2 separate regions of the Homo sapiens genome follow, and region 2 is linked to region 1. Evidence: fine-mapped expression QTL. A gene starts in region 1. The other region holds a variant in brackets. All regions are shown on one strand. Distances are between the middles of the regions. Region 1 holds the start of ITGB1 (integrin subunit beta 1). Region 2 overlaps ITGB1-DT (ITGB1 divergent transcript).

The links. PIP is the estimated chance that this variant, and not a neighbour inherited with it, causes the effect. A credible set is the group of variants that fine-mapping cannot tell apart.
Region 2: its variant is the best candidate, but not a certain one, in a credible set for the expression of ITGB1 in whole blood (TOPMed, PIP 0.52).

What each region holds. Positions count from the first base shown.
Region 1 is chr10:32,956,809-32,959,712 of GRCh38, reverse strand. ITGB1 (integrin subunit beta 1) reads left to right here and starts at 1,483. Exons shown (of 16, transcript NM_002211.4): 1 at 1,483-1,568. RefSeq lists an enhancer at 911-960 and silencers at 1,131-1,710, 1,781-2,230, 2,624-2,785.
Region 2 is chr10:33,048,732-33,051,635 of GRCh38, reverse strand. The region is part of intron 2 of ITGB1-DT (ITGB1 divergent transcript); the gene reads right to left. Among named protein-coding and RNA genes, the nearest start is that of IATPR, 67 kb to the left of the region's middle. RefSeq lists an enhancer at 1,791-2,291. The variant T/C (reference allele first, on the strand shown) is at 1,608.

The sequences.
Region 1 (2,904 bases):
GTGCAAATCAGGCACGGACCAATTATGCTTTTGAACTATACAGTTTTCTGTGCTGAGACTGGGCCAATTCTGATGAATTCTGAACAATGGTAAAACCGATACCTTTAAAATTCAAGAATGTTGAGTTCTAATGGCAGTTTGACCATTGAGATATTAATATAGGAACATCATTTAGCCTCTTAAGCTTGAACATCCATTAAGTGGGAAAAATAGTGCTCATTTCCTAGAGGTCTTCAGATTGGCTAATCAAGTTTTGATTTTGCTGGTAAGTAATGAGCAAATTTTCTTAGATGTGATCGCTTCATTTTCTCTTATATTGATTGGCAGCAGCCAAATGGGCATTCCAGTCCCTAATCTCCTGCAAGAGAAACACTTCTATTTCATAAATCTGGTAATTTTTGAGCTCTTTTCCCAACAGGGTGCTGCAGCTCACCAAGCGGAACCCACAGCATTTTCTGCTACCAGGATAGCAGCTTGCCAGTAGCATATACTAAATTACTGGGTTTCAGTATGATTTTGGCTGGTACAGACTTCAATCATCGAATCGACATGCGTTCAGCCATTCTCATAATGAATGTTTCCTTCTCTTTCAAACGTTGTTTCCAGCCCCAATCTCCAAATTTTTTTTTTTTAAGAGGTGAAACAGAAACTGTACTCCTTAGGAAGAAACTTTTCCTTCTCATCCCTGTTCCCCATAAAGGTACCTCCAGATAAATCTATCAAAAGCAGGACGCAACTCACCAGGTTTTCTAAAACGTTCCCCAGTCTCACCACCCTTCGTGACACCCATGGGTTTCCCAATTCTTCACCTTTCTCTTAGACACAGGCAAGCACATTATCACTCCAGAAAAGCAGTCCTGGCTTAGCCAGTTCCCTTCCAGAAGGACCACGTGGTTTTTGGCCCCATGGAGCCCTGCAGGGTAGGGGGGCTCACGGTCCCGATTTGCCTCGGGACTCAGGGGGCTTCCGAGATGCAGGATCTCCCGGGCTCGAAACGGGACATCAGTGGACAAACGGGAGCGAGGGTCGAACGCGCGGCTCCGAGGAAGAGGAACTTAAAGAACACGGGCCCAGCAGGCTACACCAGGAACGCGCGGGGCTCTAGGGCGCGTCCGACTCCTCCCGCCCTTCGCAGAGGAGGAAACTGAGGCACGGCGACTGTCTCAACGCAGTCCCGGCCCTGCCCCCCGCGGCCTCCCTCAGGCGCGCTCCCGCGCAGCCGGTTCCTTTGTCCCGGTCGCACTTCCTGCCCCATCCTCCGCCTCCTCCTAGCCCCGGGCCGGGCTGACGCGGCGGGAGAGGAATGCGTTTCCGGAGGGAGAGGGCGGCGGCGGCCTCGGGAGCGGGATCAGACGCGCAGAGGAGGCGGGGCCGCGGCTGGTTTCCTGCCGGGGGGCGGCTCTGGGCCGCCGAGTCCCCTCCTCCCGCCCCTGAGGAGGAGGAGCCGCCGCCACCCGCCGCGCCCGACACCCGGGAGGCCCCGCCAGCCCGCGGGAGAGGCCCAGCGGGAGTCGCGGAACAGCAGGCCCGAGCCCACCGCGCCGGGCCCCGGACGCCGCGCGGAAAAGGTAGGGGCCGGCGGGCCTCGGGTGTGGGAGCGCGGGCCGCGGCCTCCGGTCTCCTGTGCGCGGCAGCACTTAAAGCCGCCGGCCGGGCCGCGCCGGGACCTTTGTGCCGGGCGTGGGGGTGGGGGCGGGGGCGGGGGCGGGGGCGGCCGCCAGCGGTTGGGGGCTGGGGCAGGATTCCAGGCTAGTCCAGGAGGAAGTCCGCACGCCGCCACCCGCCTCGGGTCCCCGGCGCTGGCAGCCCCCGGGCGCAGAGCCAGCCCAGCCGCGTTCCGAACGTGAGGGTCGCCGGCCTGGGCGCTGTCACGTCGGGGCTGCCGGAGCTGCGGGGGACCGGGCCCGAACGGCCCCTGACACCTGCGGTCTCCCGCCGGGCTGGGCAAGCGCAGGTGGGAGCCAGCGAGGCCACCCGGGGCTCGGCGTTTGGGACTCGGCGCTCCCCTGGACGGGTCCGGTGCCTTTGTCTCTCGCTCCCTCGCGAGCTGCTGTCCTTGGAGCAGCGTCGAGCCAGCCGTCGGCGCCCGCGACGGGGACTGGTCTCCTCCGGCTGCCAGGAGGCGGCCCTGGGGCCAGCGCCGCGGGCGGGGGCGGCGGGAGCCGGGTAGAAGTTGGCTTAGTGGAGCCGCTGGGGACCGGGGGTGCGGTGGCGGCAGTGCAGTCCACTTCCCCGTGTTTATAAACGTCAAGAGTCGCCGGTCCCTGCCGGGCACCCCGGGACCAGGACGCATGGCCATGGCCAGCTTGTGCTCAGACCCGGTCCGCGAGCCTGAGAGCCCGGCCTGTGTCTAGTATCATTTTACCGCGTGTCATTTCTTAGGCTTCATAAATTGGATTTATGAGACTCCTACTCTCTAAGTAACTTTTATTTAATCAAATTCGTGCTTTTGAGTCCAAAACTTTGCACTCATTGGTATGATCATTAGTAAGTTGCATTCTCTAAGCTTCCGTTTCCTCATCTGTGAAATAGGAACAGTAATATCTACATTAATAATTCATTTTTATAATAATGACAGTGAGGGCCAAGTTTAGCTCTAGGCATTTTACATGTATTATTTAATTCTGGAACCGCTCTAATGAGATTGGTACTGTTTCGATTCCCATTTTCCGAGTGAAGAAACTGAGGCACAGGGAGCAAAAGTAAGTTGCCTGTGGTCATCAGGAGCTCCTGGAGAAGGCATGGGGTCTAGTTCCAGAGTCCGCGTTTAAACCACAAGTAACCTTCCTAACTATAGTTCTGAAAATCAAATGCAAAATGTAAAAAACTTAGCTTGAGAGTAGATGCTCAATGAGTATTGACTCCTTTTCAGCCCTTCTTTTATAGTAAAAAGATGTTAAAAAT
Region 2 (2,904 bases), 92 kb before region 1:
AATGCATTATCCATTACAGGAAAGAAGACCATTTTTCAAGACAATGACTGTCTCAAATGATCATTTAAATTCCAAAAAGAACATTTGCAAGTTAATATCTGTTTCTCCCCACTTCCAATAGCCAAAGCAATCTTAGGCAAAAAGAACAAAGCCAGAGGAATAAGGATATAGTAACCAAAACAGCATGGTACTGATATGAAAGTAAGACACCTAGACCAATGAAACACAATAAAGAACCCAGAATTAGAGCCAAATACCTGGAAGCCACCAATCTTCAACAAAGCAGATGAAAACATACACTGGGGAAAGGACACCCTATACAATAAATGGTGCTGGGAAAATTGGATAACCACAGGTAGAACAATGAAACTGGATCTCTATCGCTCACCATATATAAAAATTAACTTGAGATGAATTAAAGACTTTAAGACCTGAAACCACAAAAATCCTAGAAGATAAAGTAGGGAAAACTCTTCTGGACATCGTCCTAAGCTAAAAATGTATGACCAAGATCCCGAAAGCAAATGCAACAAAAAGAAAATTAGTGGGACCTAATTAAATTAAGCTTCTGCACAGCAAAAGAAATAATCAGCAGAGTAAATAGACATCCCACAGAATGGGAGAAAATATTTACAAACTATACACGCAACAAAGGACTAATATTCAGAATCTACAAGCAACTCAAACAAATCAGCAAGATAAAAAAAATCCTATTAAAAAGTTGTCAAATGACATGAACAGACATTTCCCAAAAGACACACAAATGGCCAAAAAACATGAAAAGGTGTTCAACATCACTAATCATCAGGGAAATGCAAATTAAAGCCACAATGAGATACCACCTTAACCCAGCCAGAATGGCCATTATCAAAAAGTCAAAAAACAATAGATGTTGGTGCAGATGCAGGGAAAAGGAAACACTTAGACACTGTTGGGGTTGCTACAACTGTGTCCGGAATTGGTGGGTTCTTGGTCTCACTGACTTCAAGAATGAAGCTGCGGACTCTCGCGGTGAGTGTTACAGTTCTTAAGGTGGCGCGCCTGGAGTCTGTCTCTTCTGATGTTCAGATGTGTTTGGAGTTTTTCTTCTGGTGGGTTCGTGGTCTCGCTGGCTCAGGAGTGAAGCCGCGGACCTTCGCAGTGAGCGTTACAGCTCTTAAGGTAGCGCGTCTGGAGTTGTTCTTTCCTCCCTGTGGGCTCGTGGTCTCGCTGAGCTCAGGAGTGAAGCTGCAGATCTTCGCGGTGAGTGTTACAGCTCTTAAGGTGGTGCGTCTGGAGTTGCTCGTTTCTCCTGGTGGGCTCGTGGTCTCGCTGGCTTCAGGAGTGAAGCTGCAGACTTTCGTGGTGAGTGTTACAGCTCATAAAAGCAGCGTGGACCCAAAGATTGAGTAGTAGCAAGATTTATTGCAAAAAGCGAAACAACAAAGCTCCCACAGTGTGGAAGGGGACCCGAGCGAGTTGCCAATGCTGGCTCCCGCAGCCTGCTTTTATTTTATCTGGCCCCACCCACATCCTGCTGATTGGTAGAGCCCAGTGGCCTGTTTTGTCCGGGCGCTGATTGGTGCGTTTACAATCCCTGAGCTAGATACAAAGGTTCTCCACGTCCC[T/C]ATCGGATTAGTTAGATACAGAGTTTCCACACACAGGTTTTCCAAGGCCCCACCAGAGCAGCTAGATACAGAGTGTTGATTGGTGCACTAACAAACCTTGAGCTAAACACAGGGTGCTGATTGGTGTGTTTACAAACCTTGAGCTACATACAGAGTGCCGACTGGTGTATTTACAATCCTTGAGCTAGACATAAAGGTTCTCCACGTCCTCACCAGAGCAGCTAGATACAGAGTGTCAATTGGTGCACTCACAAACCTTGAGCTAAACACAGGGTGCTGATTGGTGTATTTACAATCCCTGAGCTAGATATAACGACTCTCCACGTCCCCACCAGACTCAGGAGCCCAGCTGGCTTCACCTAGCGGATCCCGCACCGGGGCTGCAGGTGGAGCTGCCTGCCAGTCCTGCGCCCTGTGCTCGCATTCCTCAGCCCTTGGGTGGTCGATGGGACTGGGCGCCCTGGAGCAGGTGGTGGCGCTCGTCGGGGAGGCTCGGGCCGCACAGGAGCCCACGGAGGGGGTGGGAGGCTCAGGCATGGTGGGCTGCAGGTCCCGAGCCCTGCCCCGCGGGAAGGCAGCCAAGGCCCGGCGAGAAATCGAGCGCAGCGCCGGTGGGCCGGCACTGCTGGGGGACCCAGTACACCCTCCGCAGCCACTGGCCCGGGTGCTAAGTCCCCCATTGCCCGGGGCCAGCAGGGCTGGCTGGCTGCTCCGAGTGCGGGGCCCACCAAGCCCACGCCCACCCGGAACTCCAGCTGGCCCGCAAGTGCCGCACACAGCTCCGGTTCCCGCTCTTGTCTCTCCCGCCACACCTCCCTGCAAGCTGAGGGAGTGGGCTCCGGCCTTGGCCAGCCCAGAAAGGGGCTCCCACAGTGCAGTGGGGGACTGAAGGGCTCCTCAAATGCCACCAAAATGGGAGCCCAGGCAGGGGAGGTGCTGAGAGCAAGCGAGGGCTCTGAGGACTGCCAGCACGCTGTCACCTCTCACAACCTTTATGGAAAACAGTTTGGAAATTTCTCAAAGAACTCAAAATAGATCTACCATTCGATCCAGCAATCCACTACTGGGTATCTACCCAAAAGAAAATTAGTCATGATACAAGAAAGACACCTGAATGCATGTTCATCACAGCACAATTCACAATTGCAAAGATATGGAGTCAACCTAAGTGCCCGTCAACTGATAAGTGGATAAAGAGTATGTGTGAGAGACAGAGAGAGAGAGAGAGATTTATATATATATATACACACACACACATATATCACATACACAGATTGTGATATACATATATCACAAT